2 separate regions of the Homo sapiens genome follow, and region 1 is linked to region 2. The links come from fine-mapping of genetic effects on gene expression. Tissue or cell type: whole blood. Region 2 holds a variant in brackets; the other region holds the start of a gene. All regions are shown on one strand. Distances are between the middles of the regions.

Region 1 (9,942 bases), 21 kb after region 2:
AGAGCATATGTGGTCCCAGCTACTTGGGAGGCTGAGGCAGGAGGATTGCTTGAGCTCGGGAGGTGGAGGTTGCAGGGAGCCAAGATCGTGCCATTGCATTCCAGCCTGGGTGACAGTGCAAGACTTTGTCTCAAAATAAATTAATTAATTAAACTAAATTCTGTGACGCAAAGTCAGAAAGTCTTTATCTACAAACCCCGGCTTTTTCCCCTAACTCCAACCACTTATTTGATGACCAACGTGCATCTCAAAGTTAAGAATTTCAAAGCTTGTTGATTTCCCATCAAAAGTACTTTTCCTCATCCCGGTAAAAAGCCTCAGTCTTAGGCCGGGCGTGGTGGCTCACGCCTGTAATCTCAGCACTTTGGGAGGCTGAGGCGGGTGGATCACGAGGTCAGGAGATCGAGACCATCCTGGCTAACATGGTGAAACCCCGACTCTACTAAAAATACAAAAAAATTAGCCGGGCGTGGTGGTGGGCACCTGTAGTCCCAGCTACTCGGGAGGCTGAGGCAGGAGAATGGCATGAACCCAGGAAGCGGAGCTTGCAGTGAGCCGAGATCACGCCACTGTACTCCAGCCTGGGCGACAGAGCAAGACTCCATCTCAAAAAAAAAAAAAAAAAAAAAAAAAAAAAAGTCTCAGTCTTCAGGCAGTTGGCCAGGACCAAAACCTCTCGAACTTTTTTTTTTTAATTATTATTATACTTTAAGTTTTAGGGTACATGTGCACAATGTGCAGGTTTGTTACATATGTATACATGTGCCATGCTGGTGTGCTGCACCCATTAACTCGTCATTTAGCATTAGGTATATCTCCTAATGCTATCCCTCCCCCCTCCCCGCTAGAACTTTTTTTAATGCTGCAAATAACATGATGTTTTAATATATGTACACATTGTGGAATGGCTAAATCAAGCTAATTAACATATGCATTATTTCACATACTTATTTTTTTGTGGTGTGAGAAAACTTAAAATCTATTATTTTAGTAAGTTTCAAGCATATAACACATTGTTATGAATGAGAGTCACCCTGTTGTACAACAGATCTCTAGGATGACTTTCAAGTCACCCCTGATTCATGCTTCCTCTCACACCCCATGTTTAATTTCTTGGCGCTACCTTCAAAAAAGATCCCAGTTCCTGACCCTTCTCAACTCATCTATTAGCACCACCCTCTTCCAGAACCACTATCCTTTCTTGCCCAGGCAAGGACACCAGCTTTCTCATCTCCTGCTTCCGCCCCTGCAGGCCATTCTCCTCACAGCAACCAGCACTGTTTTCACTGAACATTTTTGCGCATAGCTAATAATTACGTGGTTTAAAAAAACAACAACGCTTTTTAAGTTCCCATAGCCCTGACCCACATCTGTCTATAACCCTCATCCCTATAGGCAATCACTGTTAATTTTTGTTGTTCACTGGAGAAGTCTTTGTAAACATTAATTGGAACAAGCCGGTGCTTGTTTGTAGCCCTGCAATGGCTTTGTTACATTTGGAAGTAAATTCCAAATGCTTACCATGGCCTGTAAGACTTTATGTAAACTGGCCCTGTCTACAGCTCCGTCTCTAAATAATCCTGCCCTTCTTTCCCTCCCTTGCTCTGTTTCAGCCACTCTGGCCACCTTGACCATCCTTGGACAGCCAGGCCCACTCCCACTTTGGGGTCTTTTACTGGCCGTTCTTCAGCATCTTTAGATGGCTCATTTCCTGACCTTCCTTAACTGCATTCAGGCCTCTGATCAAATGTCATCCCCTCAAAGCGGCCTTCCCTGGCCACCTGTCACTCTCTGTGACCTCTATCACTGTCAATTCCTGTAACCTGACTTTTTTTTTTTTTTTTGAGACAGAGTCTCGCTCTGTTGCCCAGGCTGGAGTGCAGTGGTGCGATCTTGGCTCACTGCAAGCTCCGCCTCCCAGGTTCATGTCATTCTCCTGCCTCAGCCTCCGGAGTAGCTGGGACTACAGGCGCCCGCCACCACGCTTGGCTAATTTTTTGTATTTTTAGTAGAGACGGGGTTTCACCATGTTAGCCAGGATGGTCTCGATCTCCTGACCTTATGATCTGCCCGCCTCGGCCTCCCAAAGTGCTGGGATTACAGGCGTGAGCCACTGCGCCCGGCACCTGACTTTATTTTTAATTGAAAAATAAAAATTGTATATATTTATGGTGTACAACATGTTTTGTATATTTATACATTGTACAATGGCTAAATCAAGCTAATTAACATATGCATTATTTCACATATTTATCATTTTTGTGGTGAGGACACTGAAAATTTATCCTCTTAGCAATTTTCAAGTATACATTGTTACTAACTATAGTTACCATGTTGTGGACTGGATCTCTTGAATTTATTCCTCCTGTCTAAATGAAATTTTGTATCCTTTGCAATGTCTTCCCAATCCTCACCCCCGATTTTCTTTTCTTCCAAGCATCCTTTATCTGATGTCATCTGCCCCACTAGAATATCTGCTCCCAAAGGGCAGGTGCTTTTCCTATTCATTACAGGATCTCCAGCCTACAGCTGTGCCTGGCAGATGACTAGAGTTCCATAATTCATTCAACATATAAATGAAAGAAATGAACAAAAAGTGAAAAAGAGATGAACAGGGCCAGGCGCAGTGGCTCACACCTGTAGTCCCAGCACTTTGGGAAGCTGAGGTGGAAGGATTGATTGAGGCCAGCCTCGGCAACATGGTGAAACTCTGTCTCTACAAGAAATACAAAAATTAGCCGGGTGTGGTGGCACATGCCTGTAGTCTCAGCTACTCGGGAGGCTGAGACAGGAGAATTGCTTGAACCTGGGAAGCTGAGGCTGCAGTGAGCTATGATCATGCCACTGTACTCCAGCCTGGGTGACAGAGGGAGACCCTGTCTCAAAAACAAAAAATAAAGACATGAACAGATCATTTGGCAATGGCTCTCAAAATTCCCAATGTGCATACCCTTTGACCCAGCAATTCTACTTGCACTTCAAATGAGATAGTCTACTGACAATACTAACATATACATGCAGCCACGTGTACCAGGATATTAACTGTAGCATAATCTCAGCACTTTGGGAGGCTGAGGCAGGAGGACTGCTTGAGCCAGGAGTTTGAGACAGCCTGGGCAACATAGTGAAACCCCGTCTCTACAAAAAATAGAAAATTAGCTGGGTGTGGTAGCACATGCCTGTGGTCCCAGCTACTCCTCAGGCTGAGGTGGGAGGATTGCTTAAGCCCAGGAGGTTGAGGCTGCAGTGAGCCACAACTGTATTACATGACTCCAGCCTGGGCGAGACAGCAAGAACATGTCTGAAAAAGAAAAAATTAGAAAACAGAAACATACACACAAACCCCTGCAGTAAATGTTTGTAAGAGCAGAAGTTCAGCAACAGTCTAAATGCTCATCAACAGAGAAAGTGTTAAAGTATGATATATCTCCAGAACAGCATACCATGCCACTAATACAAAAGGCAGCTCACTGGGTGCCTGACTGTACTGCTGACTCATCACCAGGCTGGCTCCCCGGTGCCAGGGAAAAAGTGTAGGCTTGCTCTGGAGTGAGACAGGCTTGGGTTTGAATCCAGGCCCGGGTTTGAATCCAGGCCCTGCTGCTTCCTGCCTATGGGGACTTCGGTAAGGCCCTTCTCTCTTCCAGGCTCATTTGTCTACATCTGTTTTTTTTTTTTTTTTTTTTTTTTTTTGAGACAGAGCCTTACTCTGTCACCCAGGCTGGAGTGCAGTGGTGCGATATCAGCTCACTGCAACCTCCACCTCCTGGGTTCAAGTGATTCTCGTGCCTCGGCCTCCCGAGCAGCTGGCATTACAGGCGCATGCCACCACACCCGGCTAATTTTTGTACTTTTAGTAGAGATGGGGTTTCGCTATGTTGGCCAGGCTGGTCTTGAACTCCTGACCTCAGGTGATCTGCCTGCCTCGGCCTCCCAAAGTGCTGAGATTACAAGCGTGAGTCACTGCGCGGACCAACATCTGTTAAACAAATTAGGGGAGAAGATTATAGTGATGTATATAAAGCAGAGAGCACACAGCCTGGTACACAGTGGGTCCAAGGTCAATGCCAGGCCTCCTCTTTCCCTCTTTTAAGAAAATTCTACCTCTGAGGGTTGCCCTGACGTGAAACTGGCAATCGTGAGTGATCTGGGGTTGAGAAATTCAGATATGGCCTGAGCTGAAGAAGTAAAATTGGACACTGATAGACATAATACAGAGATGGCCTGTCATGTGTATCTTTATCAAACACCCAGAATCTTTCCCCAGAATCCATCAACAGTGGACTCAAGTCATTCTGGGTGACTGGTGTTTCTACCTGTGGCAGCCTGGAGAGGTGGCTCCACCTGGTACTGGTACTGGGACAATGACAGTAGGGATGAGGCCTGGAGGGGAGAGGGCTGCTCAGAATCTACAACTATCAGCATGGTAGACCACAAAATAATACACAGAGACAACACACAGTACCATTAGGCAACAGGCACTGTTCTATGCACTCTCACCCATTTAATGCTGGCGGCAATGTTGTAAGTAAGGTTATACCACACCCAATTCACAAACAGGGACGTAGAAGTAGAGAGTATTAAGTCACTTGGTCAAGCTCAGCCGCTATTTATATGAACTCAACACATGCTCTTAACTCCAATGCTTTATTATAACAGCAGCTCCAGAAGGAAACCGGGAACCAGTGCTTTAGGAAAGGAAAATGGGAACCAGAGGTGGAAACTTACTTTTATTGTATACAGCCAGAGAGGTTTGAATTGTGTATGTACATGTAATACCTGTTCAAATATAATTTTAAAAAACTTTTTTTTAGACCAGCCACGGTGGCTCACGCCTGTCATCCTAGCACTTTAGGAGGCCGAGGCGGGCGGATCACTTGAGGTCAGGAGTTCGAGACCAGCCTGGCCAACATGGCAAAACCCAGTCTCTACTAAAAATACAAAAAATTAGCCAGGCGTGGTGGACGCCTGTAATCCCAGCTATTTGGGAGGCTGAGGCAGGAGAATCGCTTGAATTTCAGGAGGTGGAGACGGCAGTGATCCGAGATCTCGCCACTGCACGCCAGCCTGGGTGACAGGGCGAGACTCCGTCTCTAAATAAATAAATAAAATAAAAATAAATAAAATTTCAAATAAAAAGCTAGAACCTTCCCATCCACCCACTCTGCCCACTGGGGAACTGCCGACCCTTCCGAATGCGCATGCGCTCTCCAGGCCGCGCCCGTCGCCCAATGTTCCTCTTTGGCGCGCGCAAGACTCCGCCCACGTGTGTTTAAATTTTCGACCCTGGAGCGGATTCCCTTCTCCAACGCGGCCTTCGAGGGTTTTAAACATAGTTCTGTCTCAGACTATTCTGCATCTCCCAGGCCTTAAGGATAAAACTGACACTGGAGACCCTTCAGGGTCTGACCTGCCCATTCTGCTGCCTCACCTCCCACCCAGGTGGACCCTGAATCCAAGCCAGTCTAGACCTCTTCCCCCGGGGTCTTCGCCGCCTTTGCTTAGCTGTTCCCTGGAGTACCCTCGCCTGCCTGTCCTTCAAGGTCCAACCGGACCCGCGCCCTTTCCTAAGTGATTTGAGGCCCTGGCAGTCTCTCCACAGGCCGGGGTGTCTTCCAGGGCGCACGCCAAGTCTGATTCATTCATGTGTTCTTGGCACTCAGCCCAGAACAGTGAAATTCCTCCCTGTCGTCCCACCCCACTGCATCCCGCCAACATCACCGAAGAGGCACAACTCGAACCCCAGATCCGGGCCGCTCTCCCTCCTGCCGGCTCCTCGGCGTATCCATTTCCCTACTCATCTCCCCACCCTCAACCCCCCAACCGCGCGCACGCGCATTGAGTCAGAGCCGCGGCGTCCTCCCGCCTCCCGCTCCGGAACCCGCATGCGTGCTGAAGCCGACCGCCTCCATCCACGCACGCTCAGCCCGGCGAGCGCATTCAGTTCTCGAGCTCCAGCCCTCAGCGCATGCGCAGGACGAGTCGCCTGAGGGAACTGATCTCAGCTCGGGCCCGCGTTACATCCTCCTCCTCTTCTTCCTTCGGCCCAGCTTTCCTTAGGGGCTGCAACCCGGACGCCGAGGCCGGTTTCGGAGTGGGGAGTGCCCATTTTCTCTCCTTCCCACGTTCCTGGCCCCCAGACGCCATTTGCAGGCGGGTGGCTTGGGTCAGCCTCCCCGCCCCCACCCGACTCCCGTCACGGGAGAGCGCACACCGCGCCCCGAGAACCAATCAGCAGCCGCGTTAGGTAAGGGGGCCGCGAGCCCGCGCGAGGCTAGCGCACCGGCGGCGGGCGGGGCGCTCCGGCAGGCCCCGCCCCCGCCTTGGCCATTGAAAGGTCGCTGGGACGTCCGGCGGGGGTGCGGCACTGAGTAGGGGGCCGGCGACCGTCAATTCGATACTGGGTTGGCAGGAATGGGGGCGGGGGACGGAAATAACGTGTAAATGAGAAACTTATGCTCTGCGAGATCCAAGTACAGCCTGCAAACTGCCCGTCAAGTACTGGGGAGGCCGCCCCAATAACGTGTAACGAGAAACTTGAGTTGGGTTCCCCGAGGGAAGCTTTGTAAAGCAATGCCTAAATCCGGGGGAGGCTCCCTTCTAGAACCCCGTAGAGAGAAGTTTAAATCCTAGGGAGTCCTTAGGAAAATGTGCAAATCGACTACAGTTCTGGGCTGGGGAGTGCCCCACGAAGTGGGCTTACATACTCAGGAATCGGGAGAGTCTCCCCAAATATTTGCAAATAGTGAGGTTCTGGGAGATCCCCGAAGGGAGTGTGTGAAGCGATGCCTAAATACTGAGGAGACACTCCCCAAAAATATGTAAATTCGATTTGTTAATTTTCGGGAAGTCACCCTAGAAGTCCATCAGCAGACACTTAAATAGACCAGCTTTCCTAAGTTTGGGGGTAATCCCCAAAGGAGCCCGGAAACAGCATTGGAAGTCCCCAGCTTGCATGTGGGTGGGGTTTTTTTTTTTTTTCTTTGAGACAAGAGTCTCGCTCTGTCGCCCAGGCTGGAGTGCAGTGGCACGATCTCGGCTCACTGTATCCTCCACACCTGGTTTAGGTGGGCTTTTAAGTTCCAAGGAACTCCCCACATTCAGATACTGTGGAAGCTCCCAGAATAAAGGGCACAGGGAGGCCAGGTGCGGTGGCTTACCCGGGGAATCCGATCACTTTGGGAGACCGAGGCTGGCGAATCACTTGAGGCCAGGAGTTCGATACCAGCCTGGCCAACATGGCGAAACCCCGTCTCTACTGAAAATGCAAAACTTAGCCCGGCCTGGTGGTATGCACCTGTAATCCCACCTACTTGGGAGGCTGAGGCAGGAGAATTGCCTGAACCCGGGAGGCAGAGGCCGCAGCCAGCTGAGATCGTGCCACTGCACTCCAGCCTGGGCAACAGAGCAAGACCGTCTCAAAAAAAAAAAAAAAAAAAAAAGAAAAGCATTCACACAGGGGCGCTTACTTTGCACAGGAAAGGGCATCCTCATAGGCCAGTAAACAGAAACCTCAGGGCTGGGCAGTATCCCAATTGAGGCATGAAGACAAGTACTTAAGCACTGGGTAGATTTCAGAATAATGTGTAAAGACACTTAATTGCAAGTGAGGGAGGAGTCTCAGATTCTGGGGAGAATCTCCATCCCAGACTAAGCAGTCATTTCGGTATGGAATGAGTCATTTTCCCTAAGCAGCTGTAAACAGGCCCTTGTCCTCCTCTGTCTAGGAAAGCAGTCTTCAGCCTGGCTTGTGGCTCTGGGAGAGGTCATGTAGCACAGTAGGAGAGGAGCTAGACAAGCCACTTGTCTGGCTAGCAAAATTATGACTGCATCTTGTAAACAGACCCTTCCATTCTGGAGAGTCTCGGAGGGACCTGTTTATGTCATTATGAGGTGGGGCAGGGGAGGATTCATGGAGGGATTTAACAGATACTTCCAAGCTAAGCAAGGGTCAGCAAACTGTTTTTTTGAGACAGGGTTCTGCTTTTTTTTTTTTTTAGACAGGGTCTTGCTTTGTTACCCAGGCTAGAGTGCAGTGGTGCAGCATGATCATGGCAGCCTTGACCTCCCAGGCTCAAGTGATCCCACCACCTCAGCCTCCCAAGTAGCTGGGACTACAGGTGCATGTCACCACGCCCAGCTACTTTTTTCTTTTTTAAATGTTATATAGAGACAGGATCTTGCTATGTTGCCCAAGCTGGTCTCGAACTCCTGGGCTGAAGCAGTCCTCCTGTCTCGGCCTCCCAAAGTGTCGGGATTACAGGTGTGAGCCACCATACTCGGCCATTCAGTAAAACTTTCTGTTAAGGCCAGAGAATAATTATTTTAGGCCCTGCAGACTGTATTGTCTGTCTCAGCTCTGCCATTGCATCAAGAAGGCAGCCACAGACAGTTTCTAAATTGATGGATGTGGCCATGTTCCGATAAAACTTTCTATTTACAAAAACAGAAAGCAGACCAGATTTGGCCCCTAGGCCACACTTTGTCAACCTGACTTCTGAGCTTGAGCAGATAGCCCCACTGAGTTCTACAAACAGTTAAGTAGTCAAATACCACCCTAGACTGATGTGTGAACAGCTGGGAAAACTCTCTAAGGACCTGTAAACAGATACTGAAATGGTGGAGAGTGGGTTGCATAGGTAGCCAGACATTATATAACATCTCAAATAGAATAAACACTGGAGACACCTTGAAATGAAATTCACTGTGAGGGAAGGCAGACCGTCAGGAACGGAAGACAGACAGACACTGAAATGTAGTGGGATACCAGGTGAAAATAGGCCCTTGAGTGTTGGAACCTCACCATGACATACACTAGTAAGTGGCTGGAGCCCCACCATGACATACACTAGTAATGACTAATCAAGAGTAGCTGTTGGACTGAGGATCACATTGCTGGTTTGTAAGCAAATGCCTTGCTGCATTTTGGTAAGGAGAATATCCTATTTTTATGTGAACTTGCCCCTGTGAGTTTATTTATGTTGGAGCATTTTAATAGTTGGGAATAGTTTTGGCTGCAAGTAAGAGATAGATGTGTATTTGTTTTTCACTGCCTCTCGAAGTAGGCAATTCAAGGTTAACGTGGAACCCCCCAACCTTGTGTCTTGTTTTATTGTACCTTCCATTAAATTGCCTTACAGCCCAGGATAGCTGCTTGAGCTCCAACCTCCACACCCACATTCCTGTCACTGGGAGGAAGGGGCAGAAGGCATGTGCCAGAGTCTGTGAAGGGAAGTTTCTGGAAGCTGCCAAGCCACACTTCTAGTGTCATACCATAGCCAGAAAGTACTTACTCACATGGCCACACCTAACTGCAAACAAGGATGAGAAGTTTGTTCTGGATAGCCATGTACCTAGCTCAGAACTGAGGGTTTTACTTTTTTGGAAGAAGTCAGGAGTGGATGTTGGGAACCAGCTTGCAGTTGCTACCACAGGCCCAGAGCTCTGTTGAAAGGAAGGGCCTTGGCCGGGCATGGTGGCTCACGCCTATAATCCCAGCCCTTTGGGAGGCTGAGGCAGGTGGATTGCCTGAGGTCAGGAGTTTGAGACCAGCCTGGCCAACATGGTGAAACCCCATCTCTACTAAAAATACAAAAAAAATTAGTCGGGTGTGGTGGTGGGCATCTGTAATCCCAGCTTCTCAGGAGACTGAGGCAGGAGAATTGCTTGAATCTGTGAGGTGGAGGCTGCAGTGAGCCGAGATTACGCCATTGCACTCCAGCCTCGGTGACAAGAGCGAAACTCTGTCTCAAAAAAAAGAAGAAAGGAAGAGCCTTGGTTGGGCACAGTGGCTCACATCTGTAATCCCAGCACTTTGGGAGGCCAAGGTAGGTGCATCACCTGAGGTCAGGAGTTCGAGACCAGCCTGGCCAACATGGTGAAACCCCATCTCTACTAAAAATATAAAAATTAGCCAGGCATGGTGGTGGGTGCCTGTAATCC
Region 2 (10,202 bases):
CCCCCGATGCTGGTGTTGTGTGGGTGGCGGTAGACCTCAGTGTCAGTAGTATCAGTGAGTGGTGACATCTGGTGTTTTATGGGACATGTGGTCGTTTGTGGAAGGTTGGGTGTGTTGGAAAACATTGTGTTTATGTGTTTTGCGTTACTGTGTGCTGGTGTATTACTCCGCGTATGTTGTTGTGTGGCCACGCATGTTGGAATATAACGTGTTGGGTTGTGTGGAGGTATTGTATGTCATGTTTGGGTGTGGCTCATGGCTCAGAGGTGATGGTGTATGTTGCGTTTGTTTTTTTGTTTTTGCTTGTTTTAGAGATAGGATCTTGCTATGTTGCCCAGGCTGGTCTCAAACCCCTGGGCTCCAGCAATCCTCCCACCTCAACCTCCCAAACTGCTGGGATTACAGGCATGAGCCACTGCACCCAGCCGTATGTTGCATTTGGGCACTGGGGTCTATGAAGGTCCAACCCCATCCCCTTCCCCCAGGGCATCATCCTGGATGTTGTCCTGTGTGGCCAGAATATACCAGAATCATCTTGCTTCAGGCATGTGCTTCTTGGGTTTCTCCGTGTGTCGCTGTACCTTGTAGGTCTCTGCATGCATCCACTCAGCTTGTCCTCTGACCATACATTTGAATCGCACCACACATCAGAGCATGCTGAATCAGTGCGTGTTTTGAATCATCACTGCGAGCACTTGTGTTCGAGTCAACAGGCGCCACAATGTATGTGCAATTCTCTAGCTCTGGGTGATTGGGGGCTACTATAGGTATGTCCCTAAATGTTGTGTGTCTACACGTATTGGGTTTCGTTCCAAGGGTGTGTAGTGTTTAGGAAACTGGGACTGCACAGTGTTTGTGTCGGTGTGTGGTGTGTGGCATCAGGGCGTCACTACTTTAATATATATTGTGTGTTTGTGTAACACCTGGTGTATGTTGTGTTTGTGTGGCCACAGTTGTGCATCGTCCTATTTGTGGTGTTTGGGTGTGGCTCTTTGTGTCAGAGAAAGTTGTGACAACTTTGAGTGTAATATTTGTGCCTGTGTGTGGACGGTGTTTGGGTGGCTGTGTGTGCCACGGGATACTGCCTGCTTGCTAAGTGCTGGTGTGTGTCACACCATGTGTGTGGTGTCTGGGTGTGGCTGTGGGTTTCAGAGCTTGCTGGGAGTTGTGAGTCACTCTGTGTAGGTTGTGTTGTGTGCCCTGGTGTGTTAGTCTCCGTCTTGGGCTGTGGAGTGTCCTTCGGTGTCTGGGTGTGGTGAGTAGAGGTGTGTGTCACAAAGTACAGACCATTGTGTGTGACAAAGCCCATCGTGTGTCTGTGTGTGTCTTTATCCACGTGGATGGACGTCTCTTTCTTGCTCTGCCCCAAGACACACCCTAGCCCCTCCTTATTCTCAAAAGGGGGAGCTGGGGAGCCTCCCCCTACCCTGGGGCCTCCCCTGCCCCTCCCCGCCCTGCCTGGCCGTCACCACTCCCCAGAGGGCACAGGGCTCTGCTGTGCCTCAGAGCAAAAGTCCCAGAGCCAGCAGAGCAGGCTGACGACCTGCAAGCCACAGTGGCTGCCCTGTGCGTGCTGCGAGGTGGGGGACCCTGGGCAGGAAGCTGGCTGAGCCCCAAGACCCCGGGGGCCATGGGCGGGGATCTGGTGCTTGGCCTGGGGGCCTTGAGACGCCGAAAGCGCTTGCTGGAGCAGGAGAAGTCTCTGGCCGGCTGGGCACTGGTGCTGGCAGGAACTGGCATTGGACTCATGGTGCTGCATGCAGAGATGCTGTGGTTCGGGGGGTGCTCGGTGAGTGGGGCATGGTGGCTGGGAGCTGGGACTCCTAGGTCTGAGGGAGGAGGGGCTGGGGGTCAGGACTCTTGGGTCTGAGGGAGGGGGGGCTGGGGGTCAGGACTCCTGGGTCTGAGGGAGGAGGGGCTGAGGGTCAGGACTCCTGGGTCTGAGGGAGGAGGGACTGGGGACTTGGACTCCTGGGTCTGAGGGAGGAGGGACTGAGGGCCTGGACTCCTGGGTCTGAGGGAGGAGGGGCTGGGGGTCAGGACTCCTGGGTCTGAGGGAGGAGGGGCTGGGGTCTGGACTCCTGGGTCTGAGGGAGGAGGGGCTGGGGGTCAGGACTCCTGGATCTGAGGGAGGAGAGGTTGGGGGCCTAGACTCTTGGGTCTGAGGGAGGAGGGGCTTTGGCTGGGACTCCTGGGTGCTCCCAGGAGACAGTTGCTGGGGTCCTTCTCTGCAAAAGGAAGGGAATATTTGTTTCAGTGTTTCAGTCTTTGAAGATGTTGCCATTAGACGGCCAGAGGTCCAGGACCCCTGGAGGCCAGAGGGTGGCTGATCAGACACTCAAGCCCCCCAAGAGCCAATAAGGGGAGAGGTAGCCCCAGGTTTGGTGAAGGGAGAGTGGAGGAAAGACAAAGTTCTTCCAGTAGGCGGCAGCTCTTTGGTCCTTGTCTAACCTCTAATGTTTACCCAGTGCCTTAGATGCAAAGGACAGAAAAAACTGCCTTGGGGGTGGGGATGGGAAATGGGAAACAAACCTCTCCCCCGACCTGCCTCCCCCCACCAACCCCAACCCAGTCTCCACTGTTAACAAGCTCAATTTCTCCCCAAATCTGCATGCTGATTAGTCAGGGAAATAGTGGAGAGGTAGGCTTACAGTGGCCTGGACTCCTAGGTACCAGGAGAGGAGGGGGCTGGGTCCTGGATTCCTGAGTCTTAAGGAGAAGGGGGTTTTGATTGCTTTTGGGGAAGAGGGGCTGACTCCGAAGATGAGTGGTGAGTAGGGAAGAAAGGGGAAAGTGGGGTCAGGGCAGGTCTCAGCAGGCTCCCGTCACATTCCAGCCCTGGTCAGGCCAGTGATGGGGCAGATCAAGGACAAGGGTTGGAATAAGTGGCTTGAGGGGAGAACAGACTTGCTCAACAGGAAAGGAGGGGCTGGAGACCTCTCTGGCAGAAGGGTTGTGGAACTGGGCTGGTAGGGCCAGATGCGGACACTGATATGAAGATTGGGTAGATTCCTGAGGGTCTGATGTTCCGACTTGGATCTGGAGGGGGTGGTGGGCAGCTCTGAAGTGACCAGGAGCCACATGGAGGGTCAGGCATGCAGCTTCCTCTGGCAGGCGGCGGGCACTGAGGGGGTGGGGCCGCCGAAGTCCATGCCAACAGGAAGCATGGCCGGGGCCTGCCCGCCGCTCCCACGCCGAAGCACCGCACCCAGAAGCCGAGGTGGGAACACAGTGACCCTGGCAGATGGGAAGAGACGGGGTCCATCCTACCCCACTTCACCCCTCTGCTTTCTCACCCCTCATTTCTTCCTTCCCTCCACCATGGCCAGGCCACTGCCTCTATCAGTGGGACCTTGGGGAAGCTGTTACAACCCTCTGAACCTCAGTTTCCCCATCTGTAAATTGGGGTGAGGGTTAAAATACATGACCCTAAGGGTCACCCTCCACCCTTTTTATTTTATGTAGAGATGGGACCTTGCTTTGTTGCCTAGGCTGGTCTTGAACTCCTGGACTCAGGCAATCCTCCTGCCTCAAAGTGCTGGGATTACAGGCCTGAGCCACAGCTCCTCAGTCCCCTTTTGAGGACTCTCTTAATAACATCCACCGCCCCTC[A/G]CCACCTCCATCTCAATCTAATGAGCTCATTTCTGCAAAGGACCCAGACACCTGCTCCCCAGGGGGAGGGGCTGGCAGAGAGGCAGGTGCAAAACCCTAGGGAGTCCAAGGGAACTGGATAGAGATATCCAAAAGCACCAGGTGGGGTGGAGGAGGAGGGATGGGGAGAGGTACAGAGAGAGACAGAGACACAGAGATACATGGAGAGAAAAAGAGAGATGGAGACAAAAATGCAGAAAGATAGAGAAGTACAGCTAAAGAGAAAGACAAATAGGGCTATCAAGCTACTGAGAAATCCACCAGTGAGAGATACACACACAGCGTTAGAAAAGACAATAGAGGGCCGGGCGCGGTGGCTCACGCCTGTAATCCCAGCACTTTGGGAGGCCGAGGTGGGCGGATCACAAGGTCAGGACATCGAGACCATCCTGGCTAACACAGTGAAACCCCATCTCTACTAAAAACACAAAAAATTAGCCAGGCATGGCGGCGTGTGCCTGTAGTCCCAGCTACTCAGGAGGCTGAGGCAGGAGAATGGTGTGAACCCAGGAGGCGGAGCTTGCAATGAGCCAAGATCGTGCCACTGCACTCCAGCCTGGGTGACAGAGCAAGACTCCGTCTCAAAAAAAAAAAGAGACAATAGAAACAAAGACCCTCAAAACACATAGAAAGACAGCAACAACCATCCCTAGAGACAGGGAAATTCAGAGAACAGAGTACAGGCCCAAGTGCAGACAGGTCCGGGATTTGGGGGAAGAGGAAATGGAAAAGTAGAGAGGACCACCAGAGAAGCAAATTGCAGTGTGAGGAGGGAGCTTGTTGTCTAGTGGTGTGGGCAGTTAAGACAGACTGAAGAAAGAGGCAGGGAACCAGGGAGCCATAGAAGGTGGGGGAGGGCTGGTGACAACAGCACTATTGTTCTGATAGGGGGTTGGGGAGCAGGCCCCTGGGGCAGGAAACTGGCCCTCTTCCCCTGCTCAGAGGCGGGATGCTGGCCCAGCCAGGGGAGCTGGCAGCCCTCTTAGGAGAAACAGGTGCAATGCTTTGTAAGGACGCCCAGGTGGTCCCCTCCCCCTGCAAATACCCGCCAGGCAGGGACCAACCCCTCTTAGGAAATCCAACAGTCCCAGTCCCCTCTAAATCCCTCTCTCCAGAATTCTAGATTCCTCCAAGGTTGTGCCACACAAAGAGAGGAAAAAAAAAAAAAGGAACAATTTCTCCGTGGTTTCTGGAGGCCCTGTGCTTCCGGCCAGATCTGCCCTGGGCTTAGAGCCAGAAGAGAGGGGTGGCAGTGGGGAGCTGCAGGGGGGCAGAACCGAGGGGGCTGTCTCAGAGCTGAGGCTGGGTCTCAGGGACTCAGCCCTCCGGATGAGAGCAGAGAAGGGTGTGACTCAGTCTTTGAGGATTGAATGGTAGTTTCTACATTCTTCCAGATCTGGGGTTGGGGTTGATTGAAGTTGGTTTCTAGGACAACACCAGGTGGGTAGGAAGGGAAGGGGAGGGGGCACTCTCTAGAGGCTAGATGTCTTTTTCTAGACACCACACACACACACCCACACACACACACACACACACACACACCTGAAGAACTATTTTTGATGTGAAATGGGACAGGAATAAGAAGGAATGTGAGTTTCAAGGTCCCCCTTCATGGGTATGGGTCTTGGGAGAAGAGCTGAGGAAGAGGGTAGACACCAGCATCTGGACAGGGTTGTCCTGTTGGGGAGAAAGAGAGCATTCCTGGGGACCAGATGATGGTGTTTTTTTGTTTGTTTGTTTGCTTGCTTGCTTGTTTCGAGACGGAGACTCGCTCTGTTGCCCAGGCTGGAGTGCAGTGGCGCGATCTCTCAGCTCACTGCAACTTCCACCTCCTGGGTTCAAGATTCTGGTTCCTCAGCCTCCCAAGTAGCTGGGATTACACACCCAGCTAATTTTTTGTTTTTTTAGTAGAGACTGGGTTTCACCATGTTGGCCAGGGGGTCTCAAACTCCCGACCTTCGGTGATCCACCTGCCTCAGCCTCCCAGAGTGTTGGGATTACAGGTGTGAGCCACCGCACTGGGCCCAGATGATGGTTTTGAGACTTCTCCAGAACCGACACATCAAGAGGGACTGATTTGCAGGGGAAGGAGGCTAGGAAAATTGGGAATCAAAAAAAAAAAATGGTGGTTTTGAAGGAAAGGTGGAGGGCCAGGCGGAGGGAGACCTGGGATCTCACACCGCTTTTTCCGTCCCCCCTGACAGTGGGCGCTCTACCTGTTCCTGGTTAAATGCACGATCAGCATTTCCACCTTCTTACTCCTCTGCCTCATCGTGGCCTTTCATGCCAAAGAGGTCCAGGTAGGGCAGGCCCCGCCCCTAAGCCTTGCTCCCTCCAACCCCCTCAGCGCCCTGTCAGCTCACACTTTCCACCCTCCTCCTCCTCCTGATCTGAGTAATGAAGTTCTTCTGCCCTAGGTGCTGCGTCCACACCCTCACCTACCCAGATGGGATGAACCATGAGCAGACAGGCAGAGCCTCCCCCACCAGCTCCGCCTTCCCCTGTAGTCCCCAGCCCCCCCTTGCACACTCACGGATGCTGAGAGTGCCCTTGCAGCCCTGCTTCCGCCCCCAGGCCTCTGTCCACTCTGCTCCCAGGCACTCAGCTTCCCAGATCTCTGTGCTCCGACATGGCATCCCCAATCCAGTCCTCAAGCAACCTAAGGTCCTAGGGCTGCCCACTCCTTTTTTTTTTTTTTTTTTTTTTTTTTTTTGAGACAAGGTCTTGCTCTGTTGCCCAGGCTAGAGTGGAGTGGCACGATCTCTGCTCACTGCAACCTCCACCTCCTGGGTTCAAACAATTCTCATGCCTCAGCCTCCCAAGTAGCTGTGACTACAGGCAGATGCCACCACGCCCAGCTAATTTTTTTGTATTTTAGTAGAAACGGGGTTTCACTATGTTGTCCAGGCTGGTCTCCAACTACTGAGCTCAAGCAGTCTGCCCACCTTGTCCTCCCAAAGTGCTAGGATTACGGGCTTGAGCCACTGCACCTGGTCCGGTCCCAGGGGTGCCCACTCCTAATCACCCTATCTCTGTGCCAATAACCTCCCTCTTGCCCCAGACCCAGGAGCTCTCCCCATCCATACCCCACCTTGGGTCTCACCCAGACACATCCCATCCCCTATTGTCCCATTGCCCCAGATCCTGTTGCTCCATTCCCTTTCCCCTCTTCCCCCTCTCCTATCATAACTTTGCATGTAAAATGGGGATTATTGGCCATGTGTGGCAATTCTATGAGCAGTGCCTGGCACATAAGAGGTGCTCAGTAAACAGTGCACATTATCATCTTATCATAGAGTAGCTAAGTAGCCTGTAGCCCAGTGCGCCATTGCCCATGGAAGGGACCTGGGCCTCAGCTTCCACATCTATAAAATGGGGGCAATAATAATATCAATCTCACTGGGTTGTGGGCATTTACTAAGTCACAATATGTAAACGGGATAGAGCAGTACCTGGCGTATCCACGGTGCCCAGTACATGCTGATTTTGTTATTGTTATTGTTTTGTTTATTTTGAGATGGAGTCTCGCTCTGTCACCCAGGCTAGAGTGCAGTGGCATGACCTCAGCTCACTGCAACCTCTGCCTCCTGGGTTCAAGTGATTCTCCTACCTCAGACTCCCCAGAAGCTGGGACTATAGGTGTGCGCCACCATGCCCGGCTTATTTTTGTATTTTTCAGTAGAGATGGAGTTTCACCATGTTGGCCAGGCTTGTCTCAAACTCTTGACCTCAAGTGATCCACCCACCGCAGCCTCCCAAAGTGCTGGGATTACAGGCGTAAGCCATCGCGCCCGGCCCATGGCTTTGTTATTGCTGATATTATTATTACAGTTATTACGCGTGTCAACCGAAAGGGGAGTAGGAGCGAGCTCCAGGCATGTGGAATGCAAGCTCTAGGGAGGCAGGGGGGTCTGTTGGGTTCACTGTGTATCCTTAGCACATAGAACAATGTCAGGCACACAGTCGGCGCTCAGTCAGTGTTCAAAGGCTGGAAGTGGGCTGAAACTAGTGGGGTGGGTGGTGGGGAAGGAGGAAAAAGTGGAAAGATGTCTTCCTCAAGTCCTGTCCCGCTCCCTCCCTATCCCTCTCCCGCCCTGCACTCCCTCCCTCCTGGCCAGGCGGCACACCCCACTTATCTCAGGGCGCAGGCAGGCGCGGGCCGCCGCCTGACCTGCGCCTGACCTGCTCCTGACCCCTCCCTTCTTGGCCCCCTACCGGCAGCTGTTCATGACCGACAACGGGCTGCGGGACTGGCGCGTGGCGCTGACCGGGCGGCAGGCGGCGCAGATCGTGCTGGAGCTGGTGGTGTGTGGGCTGCACCCGGCGCCCGTGCGGGGCCCGCCGTGCGTGCAGGATTTAGGGGCGCCGCTGACCTCCCCGCAGCCCTGGCCGGGATTCCTGGGCCAAGGGGAAGCGCTGCTGTCCCTGGCCATGCTGCTGCGTCTCTACCTGGTGCCCCGCGCCGTGCTCCTGCGCAGCGGCGTCCTGCTCAACGCTTCCTACCGCAGCATCGGCGCTCTCAATCAAGTCCGCTTCCGCCACTGGTTCGTGGCCAAGCTTTACATGAACACGCACCCTGGCCGCCTGCTGCTCGGCCTCACGCTTGGCCTCTGGCTGACCACCGCCTGGGTGCTGTCCGTGGCCGAGAGGTGAGGGTGATGGAGGCATAAATGCGCAGGGGGGAACCCCGGACAGCCACGGCGGCCGTCCTGTGCCGCGGTGCAGGTTGAGGCCCCCTAGGACCAAGCAGTGGAGAAAGTTCACACTTTGACCCCTTCTCCTCTTGCTGGCTGAAATTTGCCCACACTCCCATCAACTGGGGTGAGAGGAACCAACAGACAAGCCCCCAGCCAATCCTCCACCTGCAGCCTTCAGTCTCCCCAAACGCACACACAGACCCTAGAAAGCCCCTCCCTTCCGGCTGCCTGACCTCTGCCTCAGGTTTACAGGCCATCTGTTCGGTCTCCGAACCTATCTCTGGGACCTGCCTAAAGGGTTGCCTCTGCCTTGGAGGAAGGAGACATATTTTCCCAATTAGCACGGAATGCACTGTAGGTAGGTGCTTTTTGTGATCCTAGGAAGGGGATGATTTGGAACTGCTCTGGAAAATAATTCCAAGCAGGGAATTGGAACTAGATCCTGGTTGCCAGCTAGATACTGTGTAACCCGATGCCGCGCCTCAATTTCTATCCCTTTCAGAGAAAAACGAGGTTGGGAGTGATCTCAGCCAGTGGTCCTCAAAGTGTGATTTCAAGACCAGCAGCATCACCTGGGAACTTGCAAATGAAAACTCTCAGGTCCCTTCCAGACCTACTGAATCCTGGAGGGTAGGGCCAGCAATCCACTTTAGCAAGCCTTCCAGGTGATTCTATGGCCCAACCAAGGTTGAGAACCTCTGGTCTAGTGTATGTGGCAAAGATCCTTCAGGGCAGGAGGAGAATGAGAAGATCTGGCTTTAGATCTCTCCTCTCTGAGCCTCAGTTTCCTCATCTGAAAAATGCATGTCACGTTCCACCATCTGTAGTCTCCCTGGCAGTTCTTGTTTTTTGATCTGGAGTCTCAATTATCCAGGCTAGCGTGCAGTGGCACAATCTCTGCTCCCTGCAACCTCTGCCTCCCGGCTTCAAGCAATTCTCATGCCTCAGCCTCCCTAGTGGCTGGGATTACGGATGTGCACCACCATGCCTGACTAGTTTTTGTATTTTTAGTAGAGACCACGTTACCGTGTTGCCCAGGCTGGTTTTGAACTCTTGATTTCAAGTGATCCTCCTGCCTAAGCCTCCCAAAGTGCTGGGATTACCATGCCCGCCCTCTGTCATGAGTTTAAACTCCTTCACCTTCCAGGATCTTAGTTTTCACAATTGGGAAATTGGTCAGAATCAGGATTAATGAATGATCCCCCCACCATGTTTCTCAATTGAATGATGGGAGAATGGGGAGGAAGTCAAAGTTCCACATTCCAAGGCAGAAGTCCTGAAACTAGAATGTACTTCGGAATGAGGGGGTGGGGTTTGTGAACAGTACAGATTCCATCTTCGCTCCTAGAAACTCCAACCCGGTGGGTCTGGGGTGTCAGGGGCCCTCATGAATGAAGCTTTCCCTGCTGGTCTTGCGGCAAGGGGCCTGTGGACAAAGTTAGACAAATCTCAATGTTTCAACCCCTTCCATGGCTGGACTTAAATGTCTCCTCTGTGAAGTGAGAGGAAAGGAAGGCCGAGTCCCACCAAGCCTTTTTAGAGTCCTTTTTGGTCCTGATAGGGCCACTTCTGGACCACACAGCATCTTTGTGGAAATTAGAAAAATATACCCCTTCCTCTGGGTGGATGTAGCCACCAGTCAGGGTCTGACTGGGTTTTGGCCCCCTATCGACTCTCCACCCTCAACCACACGCTCTGAATGCTACAGCAGCCCGGGTAGCCTAGCTGAGACCATACCGGCATTGGGATTGGCCAGACCCAGTCTCAAATCCCAGAGTGGCTAAGCAACTTGCCCAGGTCACACAGCAGAGAGGAGGCCATGCAGGCTTTCCAAAGCTCAGAACTTAATGGCTT

Evidence for each region. PIP is the estimated chance that this variant, and not a neighbour inherited with it, causes the effect.
Region 1: SMG9 starts here. The variant in region 2 is fine-mapped to the expression of SMG9 in whole blood (INTERVAL, PIP above 0.99).

The regions. Positions count from the first base shown.
Region 1 is chr19:43,750,959-43,760,900 of GRCh38, reverse strand. SMG9 (SMG9 nonsense mediated mRNA decay factor) reads left to right here and starts at 5,939. Exons shown (of 14, transcript NM_019108.4): 1 at 5,939-6,247. RefSeq lists a silencer at 6,159-6,518 and an enhancer at 6,749-7,008.
Region 2 is chr19:43,772,290-43,782,491 of GRCh38, reverse strand. KCNN4 (potassium calcium-activated channel subfamily N member 4) reads left to right here and starts at 1,519. Exons shown (of 9, transcript NM_002250.3): 1 at 1,519-1,789; 2 at 5,856-5,951; 3 at 7,873-8,300. The coding sequence starts at 1,631. RefSeq lists silencers at 1,268-1,537, 3,891-3,940, enhancers at 2,144-2,273, 2,632-3,131, 4,187-4,687 and a cis regulatory region at 7,846-7,885. The variant A/G (reference allele first, on the strand shown) is at 3,613.